Homo sapiens: one gene and its partner. The protein of the gene in region 2 interacts with the protein of the main gene of each other region in a biochemical or structural test. Each region holds a gene or a part of one and is shown on either strand. Other genes may lie near its edges.

Region 1 (5,561 bases), on a different chromosome or scaffold from region 2:
CTGATGGTTTCAGTTAATTACTATTGTCCCTCTTTGATAAGGTCTTCCTTGACAGGTGACCTCATAGACTTGTTTGGCCAATTATCTGCTGTTCAGACTCCCACCCCTGGCCTGATCATCTGTGGTGACGTCAGAAGGGACCAAGGGGGGCCTGGAAGGCATCTTCAGTATAACTGAATTCTCTCCTGAGGAGAGACCCTGGGGGCTGTCAGTCTCCTCCTACTCCTAGTACAAGTTCTCTTGGTGACATTAACTCCATCTGGGATGCAGAAATTGCTAGCTGTCACTTTCAGGGGTGTTCTTTCCTTGGCTAATGTCTTGCTCTTAGATTTGGGATCTTATGTTTCTCTGAGATCTGCAGCTTCTTGCCAAATAACTATACCTTTTTTCTGAACATCTGCACTAGGCTCTTTCTCCTCCCCTCTCCTTCCAGCCCCCAACTCTCTGTCCCAGTCCTTCTTGTGCAAACGATCCAGACTGGCTTTCATTAAACACCACTTCTCCCTTCATTCCTGACTCAGAAACCTCACTATGTCTTGGTGTCATCCATTTAGCCTGTTGACTTCTCGTCTTCCCCATTCCTGAACATTCCAGCCTAACCAGGTTGGTTTCCTCACACTCCTACAAAGGTACCGTGGCTTTTTCCTACCTCTATGCTTTCATTCATGTGGTTATTGTGACCTAGAATGTTCTCACCTTCCTCTCCCACTTGTCCAATCCCCACCTCCCCCACAAAACCTACCCTGACTTTCCCAGGCTCGCTGTTTCTTTCCTCTGAATTCCCAGGGCACTTAGCCTCTGTGATACCTAATTCAGTGCAGTTACACGCTCTCTTCTTATTCTGTAGCTGTTTAGTCATAGTTCCACAGCTAAATTATAAACTTCTGGATGGTGAAGTGGAATTTATTTAAAATTTTTTTATCATTCCATATTTCATTTCAAAAGGGGAAGTGGTTTTTTTAAAAAAAGATGAAATGAAAAAGGATGAGTTCATGTCCTTTTTAGGGACATGGTTGAAGCTGGAAACCATCATTCTCAGCAAACTATCGCAAGGACAGAAAACCAAACACCGCATGTTCTCACTCATTGGTGGGAATTGAACAATGAGATCACTTGGACACAGGGTGGGGAACATCACACACCAGGGCCTGTTTTGGGGTGGGGGGAGGGGGGAGGGATAGCATTAGGAGAAATACCCAATGTAAATGACAAGTTAATGGGTGCAGCACACCAACATGGCACATGTATACATATGTAACAAACCTGCACATTGTGCACATGTACCCTAGAACTTAAAGTATAATTAAAAAAAAATAACAATAAAGCCAGAATACACCAAAAAAAAAAAAAAGATAAAATGAACATATTTGAATGTTTACGTTTTAGACACTTTAGCAGACACTCAGCATGTATTTAATTTTGACAACAATCCCAGGCCACAGGTACCATAACCCTTATTTTAGAGGGGGGAGTACAGAGGTTCAGAGAGGCTAAGTAATTTGCCCAAGGTTACAGAGGCATTAGGTGTCAGGACCGAGACCTAAACTCAAGTCTGACCCTGTAGTTTTCACTCTTTGCACCACCACGTGGCTTGTTTTATAATTGTGGCCATGTTTTATTCCTTATACCTCTCAGTATGGTATTGACTACTTTGGCAAAGGCTCAATAAATACTGATTATAAGGTAATTGATGGCTCTTTTTAATCAGAGGATTGAGAAGAGCCCTTCCTTATGCTTTCTTATTAGTTCACTTATACATACATTTAAAATTTTACTGGACACCAGCTATGAGCCAGACACTGTTCTAGACATGAGGACACAGACAGAATATGATCCCTGCTCACCCAAAGAAGTGAGGCTTATACAAAAATGACTAATATACAATTGTATTCATTATCCATTACTCCACAAAAATTACCACAAATTTACTGCCTTATAACAACACATGGCCAGGCGCGGTGGCTCACACCTGTAATCCCAGCATTTTGGGAGGCCAAGGTGGGCTGATCACCTGAGGTCAGAAGTTCAAGGCCAGCCTGGCCAACATGGTTAAACCCTGTCTCTACTAAAAACACAAAAAATTAGCCGGGTGTGGTGGCGGGCGCCTATAATCCCTAGCTATTAGGGAGGCTGAGGCAGGAGAATTGCTTGAACCTAGGAGACAGAGGTTACAGTGAGCCGACATCACACCACCGCATTCCAGCCTGGGCAACAGAGTGAGACTCCATCTCAAAAACGAAAACAGAAAACAAAAAAACACACACACATTTATTGTCACACTGTTTCTGTGGGTGGGAAATTTTGGCACAGCTTCACTGGGTCCTCAGCTTAGGTACTCACAAGACTATAATCAAGGTGTTGGCTGGACTAGGTTCTTATCCGGCTCAGTTGGGGAAGAATCTGCTTCCAAGCTCACTCGGGTTGTTGGCAGAATTCAGGTTCTTGCAGCCACAAGACTGAGGGCCTCTGCTTGTTGTTGGCTGGAAGCTGCTCTTGGCTCCTAGGAGGGGCTCTAAAAGGGTGGGCCAGCAAGGAGGAGTTCTATACAATGCAACACAGTTGCCAGAGTGACACCCTATCACCTTTGCCTTATTCCATTCATTAGAAGCAAGTCACAGATCCCACTTACACTCAAGGGGAGGGGACCAAACAAGGGCATGAATTCCAAGAGGTGAGGATCATGAAGGGAGGCTGTCTTTGAGTCTGTCTTCCACAACAATAATAAATAAGTGCCAGGTGAGTGGTACAGACAACAAGTACTGCAGGAACTCAGCTGGGCTCCACATGTGAGGTGGTGTCACTGCTGATGAGCTCGGGCCATTCAGAGGCCTGGAGGATCCTATTTGAATGAGATTGTGAGAGATGGGCACTACCATCAGTTTACAGGCAAAATGGAGATTTCACAAATGCTCCTGGAGACCATGGGCCCCGACCTCCACAGTGGCAGCCCCAAGCATGAGCCTGTCCTGGAAGGAGGCTGGCTATCGTCCAAGAGTCAGAGGGTCAGGCATCAGGTGATGACTGTGGACATGAAGAAATGGTGACATGTTCAGGAGCTGGCAGGCCCGAAGATGCACTGGGTAGACCCAGTGGGGGCCTGGACAGGTTGGAGGAAGGAGAGAGAGGAGGCTGAGGTGAGCCTGAAGTGAGGTGTCCCAGGGATGAACAGGTCAGAGCTTCTGAGGGGGCTGAAGAAGCAATTCACTGACTCCTTTCTCCAACTGGGGATAAATAACCTCTAATTTCTGTGGAGCACTCCTAGAAACAAAGAAATCTTTCATAGATTAATATGTATTCATATATTCCATTGGCTCTTCCATTGGCCATGTAGCATCAAGATACAAAAGCTAACGGAGCAGTGGGTCTCCTTGACCTCTGTGCATGTCTGTGTTGTGTGGGTTTATATGCACATGTGGGAAAGAAGAAGGGACAGCTCGTACCTGTTCAGTAAGTCACCAGCATTCTAGGAGAGAGAAAAAGTGAGAATCATAATTGGTTCTCAGGTTCCTATCACCTCCAAATTCCTTTCCCAATTCACTCTTGGAGGCCACTCTGGGGTGCCACCTTGAGAACTGGGGGAACATAGCAACACCCCTCTTCTGTGCCCATTCTGCTGCAGCAGCACTCTGTAGCCTGGAACAAGCCACATCTACCACAAGTCACCACATATCACACAGGCCCCTCCCTCTTACACCTCCCAGAAGGGTGATGCAGATGGGCTGCCTCCTATCGGGGAGAATCCCAGCCCTTGGGGAAGGCCTCAGGGTATGCACCTTCAGTGTGTTGGTGTCTAATTCCTTGGCCGTCCTTTCCAGATCAATGACCAGGCTTCTGAGCTGTGTTACTGCCCTGGAGATGTCAAGGATTCTGGCCGCTTCTGCTGGCATGTGCTCCAGCTGGCCCAGCCACTGCTGAGGGAGGGCACCCAGCTGTTCCCTGGTTTGGTGCTGGCTCTCCGGCCCAGCCTCCAGCCTGTGGTTCCCGTGGTCTACCTGAAACTACAGGAAAGGGGCTCCCTAAGACTCAGTGTCAGGTGGCTCCCTCCTGGCCCTTCACAGTCTCTGAATGTCTGAGCAGGAATGCTGATTCCTCAGTCCTCTTGCCCTCATGGTGTTGCCTCTGTGTGTCACAGGTATAGCAGAAGCAGCTTTGATTCTCATAAAGGCAGGGACACCTCACCTTTCCACCTCACTCTCTGAATATCTACAGATGCCATGTGACCAAGAGGAATAGAAAGGTAGACTGTCAGAGACAGAAATGGAGGCCTATGGCGGCCGGGCACGGTGGCTCACACCTGTAATCCCAGCACTTTGGGAGGCCAAGGCGGGCGGATCACGAGGTCAGGAGATCGAGACCATCCTGGCTAACATGGTGAAACCCCATCTCTACTAAAATATAGAAAAAATTAGCTGGGCGTGGTGGCAAGTGCCTGTAGTCCCAGTACTCGGGAGGCTGAGGCAGGAGAATGGCGTGAACCCGGGAGGCGGAGCTTGCAGTGAGCGGAGTTCGTGCCACTGCACTCCAGCCTGGGCGACAGAGCAAGGCTCCATCTCAAAAAAAAAATAAAATAAAATAAAAAGAAACAGAGGCCTATGGCTTGTGTAGTAATTTTCAGTTGACGAGACACTGGTCTCCTTTGATCCCTACTGTGATCCAGGCAGAGCAGGACTGGTTCTCATTTAACATGTAAGTCACATAAAGATCAGAGGGCTTAACTTGCGTAGGTCACTCAACCAGCAAACTTTGACGCCAAGGCCAACACCCGGGTTTTCAGCCTCCACGACCATCTGCCCACATCAGGCTGTTCCAGGGACAGACAGATGTCCAGAATAGTTAAGTAAGGGCTCCTGAGAACACTCCAGGGAGTCCTTCCCAGGAACCCGAAAAACCCACCTGCAGAGCCTGCAGTTTCTTCTCCTGCTGAGCCTTGAGCCGCTGAAGTTCTGCAATGTCCTTTCTGAGCTTCCTGCTCCGGCGATTGAGTCGTTCCTAAAGAGACAGACACACCTGCTTGTCAGACTGGGAGTGAGGGGGGCACCCACTGGGAGGAGTCAATGGAACACGGTAGGGGGCCTGATCCCAGAATGCAACTAATGTAAAATTCTGCCTAAAAAGAAATGCTTTTAGAGCATCATGGTTGGAGTAAGGGACTTGAGAGTTTATTTATTGGATAATGATGGGGGGAAATAGTAATGGGTAATTTTTTTACAGTCTTAGAAGTACAGAAAAAATAATAGATAGCAACAGAACCATTTCTACTTGACTTCAGGGTGCTTTCTCTCAACATACAAAAGTTATATGACAGTCTTCTAGCACTTCTTACTATTTTACAGTAACACATGGAGCCAGTCTGGAGGGAATTGCCTTAAAGAGGAAATGGCAACCCTCTGCTACCTCTGCTGCCTGGTCCTCACTGGGATGAGTGACAAGATAGAGCCCTTTACTAGGTGCAAACTCATAGCCCAGGTAGGCAGTGCCTTCTCTCTCAATCTTAAATCAGCATCTGGATGTGTCGCTGTGTCCTTGAAGCTATGGAGTTAAAGAATGATTTGAGTTTCTAA
Region 2 (10,627 bases):
GTAATGTGTATTAACAGGTAACTTTTATTGAACACTTACTATGTGCAGTTGGTATCATTTTCAAAATGTATTACTACAGTTCATGTTCAGAGTAACCCACTGAGGCTCCTAATGTTATTAACTCCATTTTACAGATGAGAAACCTGAGGCAGGTTAAATAATTTGTCCAAGGTCTCCCAGGAAAAACAGTGGCAGAGCTAAGAATTTAGCTTGTGATAGTGTTGAATGTTTTTCTTATTTAATGTAGTTCCATGGAGCAGGGGTTAGTAAACTACGGCCCATGGGCTAAATCAAGCCTGCTACTGTTTTTTTCAGGCCCACAGGCTAAGAATGGTCTTCAGATTTTTCAATTTTTAATTTTCAGTGTTCATAAAGTTTTATTGGAACACAGTCATGCTCGTTTGTTTACATATTGCTTGTGGCTGCTTTTCTACTCCAAAGGCAATTGGATGGAGACTGTGTGCCCTTAAAGCCAAAAATATTTATTATCTGGCATTTTAGAGAAAAAGTTTTCCAATCTTTGCCCTACATTACACTTTGTGCCATTTAGTCTTAGCCCAAATGGGTAAATTGCAATCACACACACACACACACACACACACACACACACACCCTTTTTCTTTAATCAAAGTTTCAACATTCTTTGAGAATCAAAATTTAGAAACAATTCATTGAAAGAATGTGTTGCTAGTTTCAGTTTTTCATGTTAGTGAAGAAACTCATTTTTCTTAAGGTAGCATTTTGACAGGGCGAATTTTACTGATGACTTTACATTGAATGTGATATGAATTATTTTTTGATAAGTGAAGATGTACTGTGATGTGTATAAATGCTGACCTGTTTGAATGTGACTTATTCAGGCTCGTAAGTCAAAAGTCTTGTTTTGGAAGACATGTAGACAAATAAAGCCATGACTAAAAGTCAAAGGCTTTGTCTACACCACTCTATGATTTTCACATGGTTTTTTTCTCTCTCTCTCTTTTGGGTCATCCATTGTTTGTATATTCATACAAACTTCTGGGCATTTGATTGATTTGCTATAGCCTATGATGCAATTTAGTCTTTAGTGAATAAAGTTAGTGATCTTTTGTAGACTTGACAGACACAGGGCCTGTCCAAAGACCCAAACATGCATCTAATTTTGATGGCCAGTTTTCCCAACAAGTAAATTACTTTGCACTGTTGTCTGTAATGTTTATGTCGTTTTGTGTATTGAGAACCAGCTAGAACGCATTATAGTAGTCCAGCTGGATATGACAAATGTGTACATCACTGTGGCAGAATCTTAATTTGGAAGAAAGTATGCAGCCTTCAAGCCAGCTGGAGATGGAAGATGGCATTTCCAGCCACAGTAGCTGTTAGAAGTCCAGAAGCAACAGAGTCCAGTAACACCACAAAGCTGTTTATGTTTGGTGGGTATGATGTCCCGATTGCCAGCGAAACAGCACTTCTCCCTATTTACTCTAAATACTTCTGCCTATCAGCATCACTTTTGTCTTGCCTGGATTGAATTTCCGCCAGCTAGATTTTATCCAAGTTCTTGATTCTGGCAAGCTTGGAGGCAGCTAGCAGTAATGCAAGGGATTTGACACAAAGAAGATATAGAGTAACGGGACTTTTGTGTACTGGTAGCAGTTAAGGCCAAAACAACCCAAATTCTCCCTCTGATTCACATTTCAAAGGAGGCCCCAAAAGACTGAGCAGCTATAAATTTGAGGCTCTCTAGGAAGCAATAGTTTCTCTGTGAGAGTGTGGAATAATTTTTGTGTGCATCATTTACATGTATTATCAGTTCCAAAACTAAGATATGGTGGACAATGAGACGGAAGCATTAAGTTTGGTAGAATAATCTATATTGAGGTGGTGGTCATTGACAAATGTTTATCTTACAGCAGCAAAGTGTGATAAGACTGTAGAAGGGGAACACATGGATTTGAGGTCCATCTTGGCTTCTTACTATATGCGTTACTTTGGGCCAAATTACTGAAGTTCCCTGATGCTACATTTACCTGTGAAAATGGACATCATAAAATTTCTCACAGTATTTTAGTCAACATCAAATCAGAAATAGTGTTTATGAAAAAGCTTATAAATCAGAGCTATTTGATATGATAATGGTGTTGACTTTTGTAACCATTCATCTGGTTACATTTCTGTGTAAATTTAAGTTTGAGAGATTGAGGTAAATTCCCCATGTCGCAATTGAGATATACTTCTTAAAGTCCCTAGATTATACTGATTTGAAAAAGAAATTACCTCTTTCATCCCAGAACCTAACTAGGATTAGGTAGAGGGTTGGTGTTTAGTAAGCATTGATTACTTGATTGATAGACTAATTGAATTTATTTCTGAAAGTGTCTGGAATAAGCGTTGAAAACACATGACGTATTGAATTGTGTTGCCAGGCGTTAGAGAATGGATGAATGATGAAAATAAGATTTCCAAATTTGCTTTTTTGAAGGCTTAAAATAGCATTTAACTAAGTAATCAAGACTTCTATAAAATGGTCTTGTATTTTCATTCTTTTTCTGTTTCCCCATAGACATTTTCTACTTGATCTATTATTTTAATTTAGGATTCCCACCCCATTTCCTAGCCCCTGCCCGTAATTACAGCAGGCCTTCTGAAAATGACTTTATACATAGGTTTGTGTCCAGCAAGTACCCAAAAACTTATTCATTCATTCACTCATTCATTCAGTTTGAATTTATTGAGTGGCATCTTTGTGCCGGATGCCATGCTAGTGGTGAAAAGATAGGAGAAAAACACAGAGACTGTTTTGTCCTTTCGTGAAGTTGTGTTGTAGTGTTAATTAGTGTTGATAAAAGAATGTCTACTGTAGGCCAGTCATGGTGGCTTACGCCTGTAATCCCAGCACTTTGGGAGGCCGAGGAGGGTGGCTCTCGAGGTCAGGAGATGGAGACCATCCTGGCTAACACGGTAAAACTCCGTCTCTACTAAAAATACAAAAAAATTAGCTGGGTGTGGTGGTGGGAGCCTGTAGTCCCAGTTACTCGGGAGGCTGAGGCAGGAGAATGGCATGAACCTGGGAGGCGGAGCTTGCAGTGAGCTGAGATGGCGCCACTGCACTCCACCCTGGTGACAGAGCGAGACTCCATCTAATAAGAAAGAGAGAAAGAAAAAGAAAGAAAGAAAGAAAGAAAGAAAGAAAGAAAGAAAGAAAGAAAGAAAGAAAGAAAGAAAGAAAGAAAAGAAAGAAAGAAAGAAAGGAGGGAGGGAGGGAGGGAGGGAGGGAGGGAAGGAAGGAAGAAAGGAAGGAAGGAAAGAAGAATGTCTACTGTATACAAGGGACTATTCTAAATACTAGAGTTTCAGCAATAAATATATGCCATTTTATCAATCATTATAATAAAGCAATCCTTAATGGTAAGGGGGTACCCCTGTACTGCCTTGCTCCTCTTTTAGGATGCTAAGTTACAATTTGGCATTGTTACATCTTAGTTATAACTAAGTTACAACTTGGCACACCCATCAATTTAGGCAGTCATGAACTCTGGGAACGAAAGTGATCATATAAACATTTCCATAGTGTCTTAATAATCAAGCTGAACAGCTAAAGAGAGATGCATGTTTCATCCCTGGCCAGTTCAGAACACAATGCATCTGTAGTCCTGGAGACTCCACACACCTTCCATTTACACAGAAGAACCAGAGATGCCATGACTAGTCCACCTAAGAACAGTCCAGTTCTCCCAACATGAAGTTGAGCACCCAAGTCAATCTCCCCAGGAACATTGTATTGTCTGGCAAATTAGGAAAGATAAGAATTTCATCTGCAAAAAAAAAAGTATGAATAAGAAATTAGCTATGTCAATGTGACAATAAATATTCATTGGGTTAAGACATTAACTTTTTGTGGGAAACTGGTTCTTTAAAATTCTTTTTTAACATACAGGTTTTGCCTCCTGATTTACTTTTATCTGAGAGTTGAACTCTGCTGGGTTAAAAAAATCACCATTATATTTAAATAGCTATCTAAGGTTATTATAAAGGGAAGAAAACATTTTCATTAAACTGTACAATTGTGTTGGTAAGCCAGTGCTTTATGGAAATGTCATTGGTTTCTTCACTGATTTCTGTTGGAAAGAAAAAACATATCAAAGAATTTAGAATATGAAAGCATTGAGTTGTATTATTACCAAATTAATTTTATTTCGTATTTCATAAATTAGTTAACAATGTATTAATAGACTACATAGTGAAAACATCCATCCATTTTTAACTTCACAGAGAAAACTTCGAGTGGGGGAGGGGCATGGGTGAGAATTGTTTTATGACTTGTTGCAGTCTCAAATGTAAATATTCACCTCCCACGAATTTCTGTAATTGTGTTTACATATTGGGATCAATATCTTTACAATGTTTTAGGAGAACATATTAAATTTTTAAAATTATATAATTGCTTCAAAGGGAGCTGATGTACTTTCCAGCACCAAAACTGAGAAGATTTCTTAAAAATTCAGCATCTTGATGAGGCTGCTAAAATTGCACAGATATATGTAGTTCCACATTCAAATTGTAAGAATATGTTTAGGAAATAATGACATCATGATCCTTATATGCTTGGACTCAATAACGGCAAAGAAAGCTTGAAAAATATGATTCCACAGTAAAAGTTGACTTAATAGAATAGTGGTTGAAGAAAATTTTGTGGATAGAATATGCTTAGGGATTTTTAATAACAGCATTTGTTGCCTCACTGGTTCTTTTTAAGGAAATCCTTCCTGATTGCTTCAGTCAAATATATTTAAAGCTGATTAAAGGATGGGGTAATAAAATATGAGAATGGCTGAGTTAAAAGAAGACACTGAAACCAGTCTTATTTACATCTATAGCAATTACTTGTTAAATTAGCAGATGATAATAAAGATGTTACAACATCAGGGAAGCCAAAGAATTTCCATTAGGAGACTAAGAGAGCTAGAAAAAAATGGTAAAAAATGAGCAAAAATCTGCTTAGAAAATGTTGTGGGTGACATGGACTGAATTCACTTGAAATTTACTGAGTTCAAATAGTTATTTTTAACCACTTCTTGCCAGAAAATGAATTTAAAATTGGAGAAAATTATAAGCTATAATTATAGTTCAAGAAGGCAGGATTCAGCCTCTAAATTCAACTGCCTGGGATCAAATTCTACTTCTGCCACTTACTCACTTTGTGACCTCAGAGAGGTACCTAAACATCTCTGTGCCTCGGATTTCTGATCTGTAAATGAGTTAATATTGGTACCTATTTCTGGGCTGCTGGGTTAATATATTCAAGTTCCCTAGAACAGCATGCTTAACTACTAGATGCTAAGACGGAAATATCCCTTGGGTAGAGACCATGCTGTATGTGCTTGTGCAGGTGAGGTGTTTGTAACAATAACTCTTCCCAATCATCCATAATAGTTCTAACACTGAATTAGTGCCAGACATTGTTCCAAAAATGTTAACAAATTTCTGACATAAAAGGTTATGGAATATATTTATAGAACTAGAAAATACATAAATTTGTAGGAAAGAACTAAACAATCCAAATGATACATGTGGAAGATTGGCAAATGTTGAGAAGGACCTTTGATAATATCAAAGTCAATATTTCTTATCTGGGAGGCTGATAGAATCACATGAGATGTTTTACTTTTTCTTTAATATCTGAGTTCCTAACATAGACAAAATAAATCATAATCTTTTAGGGGTGTTTCCTAGACATCAGTATTTTTTAAGGCTTTACGGTTGTTTCTAACATGCAGCTAAGATATAGAAACTCTGAAATTTCTTTTCAGCTGCCTTGTAACCACATATTGTAACCAAGGTCTAGGGAGATGAAGTAAATTGCCTAATGCCACAGAAAGCTAATGATGTCCTGCCTAACTTCTTTCATGTCTAAACATGGCTTGAGTTACTCTTTCCTCCAAATCCTTATTGCTATATTAGGACCTAGGGAAATGCACTGTGACAATGATTACACAAAAGATCCACATTTAAAAGAAATTTACTAATCTAAAAGAGAAAATAAAAGAAGGCTAAAGACTCTAATGAATGGATATAAAAATAATTCTGCCCCATATTTCCAAAAAAAAGATATAACAATAAATTTCCCATAACATTAAAAAAACACAAATTTGAGAAAAATTGATTATAGTAATAATCAACTATGCAAATATTACATAGGAAAAAATATAAATCTGCAGTAGTAATTACTTATTTCATAATGATAATCATGAAGAAAGGAGATAAGAAATGTTTGATTTCCCATTTACAGACTCCATAGATTGAAAAAATATAGCCAGCCCTAGATATACAGAAAGAAATTGGTGAAAATAGACATAACATGGCTGCAGACTAAAGATACTTTCTCTTCTATCCTTTATTCAGGAATGGCTGAGGTAAAATTTATTTTCTAGGTGTCAGGTTTGAATAATTCAATAGCTTTTAAAAAAAATGGTTCATATTTAAAAGGACACTTGGTCCAGAGATTTTTGTTGTTGTTGTTGTTGTTGTCCCGGAGATTTTTTTCCCTGCCGACTTCAGAATTGCTACAGGTAACATTGCTATTTTCTTCAATGTTTCAATGTAAGCCTTTATTTATACTTATGCTTAATTGCTCAGTTTTTCTAAAGGGTATTTCCTGTTTAAGGTTATTCAGAAGATGTTTGATCTTACTTAATTCTAATTTTCTCTTACAACAGATTGCTGCTGCAGAAAACAATGGAAATGAATCAGGTGTAAGAGAGCTACTAAAAAGGATTGTGCAGAAAGAAAACTGGTTCTCTGCATTTCTGAATGTTCTTCGTCAAACAGGAAACAATGAACTTGTCCAAGAGTTAACAGGCTCTGATTGCTCAGAAAGCAATGCAGGTATTTGTAATTTTACTGAGGAAGATTCTTCAAATTCTGCCTAGTGATTGAGAATTCAATAAAGCAGAAAGACACAATGCTAAACACCAAGATTTTTAGAATCAAAATTTTAAGAGTGGAACATATGTGATAGATCATCTATTTTATCACCTTAACAAATGAGGAAATTGATGCCTGGGAAAATATCAACTGATCAAAGACCATTTTTCATCCAACCAACACTCTTTCTACTACCTTATTTTAAAAACAATATGACTACCAGAAATTTTATCAAGATTATGTAACATTAAATATACACAAATACATTGGAAGAAAGTATTTTAGTGGTTATAAAAAATCTGCTGCATATTCTTCTGAACATTTTTATACATTTTAAGCAATGTATTAAGCATTTGATAAAAGGATTGTTTTGTCAATATATCTCAACCTTACCTAATGTGAGATTTTAAACAGCATTCAATAATAGTAATAACATAACATTTTATAGCTCCTTCTCCTACATTATTTGTAAATCTCACTTAAACTGCTATCTTATTTTTCTTTTCGTAGTATGCATCCTATGTTTCCAAAAATATCATATGAAAGACAAATTGAAAGTTAACTATTAATTAATTATAATCATTGCAGTTTTGTTCTGGTGACCCTAACTAATGAAAACTTTGCTGTAAAAAGTGGGGTGCTGCTGTAACAAACACCTAAACGTGTGGAAGTGGCTTTGGAACTGGGTAATTGATAGAGACTGTAAGAGTTTTGGGTGAATGGTAGAAATATGGGTGTTCAGGGTGATTCTGGTGAGGTCACAGAGAGAAATGAGAAAAATGTCATTGGAAACTGGAAGAAAGGTGATCCTTGTTATAAAATGGGATAAAACTTGATCTCACAAGTAATGGATTTGGATATTTGGCTGAGAAAATTTCTTAGCAAAATGCTGAAGGAGCAGCTTGATTTCCCCTAACTGCTTATAGTAAAATGCAAAAGAAGAGAAATTAATTGAAGGAGTTGTTATGCAAAAAGGAACCAAAATTTAAATATCTGGAAAATTCTCAGCCTATCCATATGGCAAAAAATGAGAAATTGTGTTATAAAGAGAACAACCAATTGATAACAAGATCATGGGTGCTACTGATGGACTTAATCAGCCATTTCAGCAGAAGGTAGGAGTAGAGATATATTATACCAGCAAATACACTTCCAGTTTGAACTGAAGGAGACAGAGAAAGCAGGACAGAATGAGAAAAGGATACTGGACTTTCTGGATTCTACAGAACCAGACCATAGAGCTATTTGGCTGTGAATGTGTACTATTCTTCAGGGAAAGGAAAGAATGCCCCCAAAAGTGATACAGAAGTCATCAGGGTTGCCACTTCCACCACAGACCCAGAGGCCAAGGCAGTTTCCTTTTTGGTTTCAAAGGGCAAAACTGTCTCTCTGGTTTTAGTGAGCCCTCAGGATGACCCTGCCTAGTGTCTCAGAAGCAGAGCTATCCTCACAGAAAGCTGTGTGGATGGAGCCCTTAGAGAGAGCAGGCTGTCTTGCAGAGCCCTAGAACCTGCCATTCCGTGGACCTGGAAGGCAGAGCATCAAACCAAACAGAGCTATTCTCAAGCCTTATAAGCCTTAAGATGTGACAGAATTTACCTTAATAAGTTTTGGATTTGCTTGGGACCCATCACCCTTGCTTTCTTTCCTATATCTCCTTTTTGGAATAAGACGTCCATCCTATGCCTGTCCCACCATTGTATTATGGAAAAGAAACATGTAGCTCAACTGGTTTCACAAGTTCACAGCTGGTGATGAATTTGCCTTATCATGAATCACACCTCTAGTCTCATCTACGTCTGATTTGGACAATGTTTAGGTGAGACTTTTGACTTTAGACTTAGAGTTCATGCTTCAGTGAGTTAAGGCACTTGGGCTGATGAGATGAGATGAATGTATTTTGTATGTAGTAAAGATATGAATTTTGGGAAGCCAATGGTAAAATGCTACAGATGGAATTTTGTCCTCCTAATACTCATATGTTGGAACCTAATATGACTCTATCTGGAGACAGTGATAGTAGGAGATAGTTAAGATTAAATGAGCCAGGCCAAGCGTGGTGGCTCACGCCTGTAATCCCAGCACTTTGGGAGGCCAAGACGGGTGGATCACCTGAGGTCAGGAGTTTGAGACCAGCCTGGCCAACATGGCGAAACCGCATCTCTACTAAGAATACAAAAATTAGCTGGGGTGGTGGCATGCAGCTATAATCCCAGCTACTTGGAAGGCTGAGGCAGAAGAATCACTTGAACCAGGAGGCTGAGGTTGCAGTGAGCCGAGATCATGCCACTGCACTCTGGCCTGGGTGTCAGAGCAAGACTCCGTCTCAAAAAAAAAAAAAAAAGATTAAATGAATCATAAGAATGGGGCCTTAATCTGATAGAATTGTGGCCTTTTAAGAAGAGGAAGAAAGAGAAAAAGAGAAACATCTGTCTCTTTCTCTCTCTTAACCGTGTGAGGACGCAGGGAGAACGTGGCCATCTGCAAATCAAGGAGAGAGTCCTCATCAGACATTGACCCTGCTGTCACCTTGATCTTGGACTTCCAGTGCCCAGAACTGTGAGAAAAGAAGTGTCTGTTGTTTCAGCCACTCAGTTGATGGTGTTTTATTATGGCAGCATAAACAGACTACTGTAGGAGCTTAGACTCTGGGTCCTGATACATATCGGATCCTGATGCTTATCAAATCCAGGCTCCTTCCTTGAATGTGTGACCTTTGGCCAGGTTCTCGACTTCTCTATGCCTCAGTTTACTCCTCAGTAAAATGGAGATAATAATATTACTTATCACCTCAGTAAAATGGAGACAATAATATTACTTACCATCTAGGTTTATTTTGAGACTTAAATAACTTAATGTATGTAAAGTATTTATATTGTGAGTGCAAAATAAATTAACTATTATAATAGTCCCTAATGTACTTAATATCTAACTGCAAACATTGCCAAGTTTTCTTCTTGTCCAAAGTCACAACAGTTTTCTTTAGGAAATTTTCCATACAAAGTGGGGCACATTTTCACTGGGTTCTTTAAGATGAGATAATAAAAAATGATACGTTAGAAAATTTTCCTTATGGCATCAGTCTTCTCTGACAGATTGCAGCTTCATAAAGGCAAAAACTCTTGATTTTCTTTTTAACCCACATAAGCCCTTAATAAAATACCCATTACATGTAGTTGAAGTAAGAAAAGCTGGAAGTGAGGAATGGAGGAAAGAAGAAAAGAGGGGCACAAAATATTTCATTAAATGTTTTAAAAATCCCCAGAAATTCAGAATACATGAATATAGGCTGACATTAAAGCAGATGTACGTCTCGTGCAGAACACACAGTGAGGAAACAAAATGGCAAGAGCAAAGCTAAAGAAAACTACCAAATTTGCATTTTCATTAATTCAGCCTTAAATGTAACTTTGTGTCACTGAATAAGTGACTTACTTCCTAAACATGACGGTCAGACAGGAAATCACTTTTCTTGTGATTAGCATAATGCTTATATTGTTTTTTTAGCTACAGTCTAATCATTACAAAGAACTACTCGTTGTGTCCATATTAAAATTAAAAGTACCTTGCCATAACAAAAGCACATTCTAAGCCTTTCGAAATGTCAACATATTAAAATATATTAAAGCAATCTCTATTGCGGGCTCTCCATTTTGTTTTCAAAATAACAATAACAGCTATTTATATTGTATAAAATCTTGCATTGCAATACAATTTACATTCT

The links. Proteins that work in one complex are often made in the same cells at the same time.
Region 1: of the proteins of IFIH1 (region 2) and TRIM40, one has a biochemical effect on the other in vitro, tested with the Homo sapiens proteins (one study listed by BioGRID).

Annotation. Positions count from the first base shown.
Region 1 is NC_000006.12:30,145,422-30,150,982, reverse strand, and holds the end of TRIM40 (E3 ubiquitin ligase TRIM40), read right to left. Parts: intron 4,990-5,561; coding exon 4,894-4,989; intron 3,999-4,893; coding exon 3,774-3,998; intron 3,464-3,773; coding exon 3,441-3,463; intron 3,259-3,440; coding exon 3,171-3,258; 3' UTR 2,255-3,170; downstream 1-2,254. UniProt on the Homo sapiens protein: E3 ubiquitin-protein ligase that plays a role in the limitation of the innate immune response. Mediates inhibition of the RLR signaling pathway by ubiquitinating RIGI and IFIH1 receptors, leading to their proteasomal degradation.
Region 2 is NC_000002.12:162,307,002-162,317,628, reverse strand, and holds part of IFIH1 (interferon-induced helicase C domain-containing protein 1), read left to right. Parts: intron 1-6,695; coding exon 6,696-6,864; intron 6,865-7,045; exon of another isoform or gene 7,046-8,722; intron 8,723-10,627.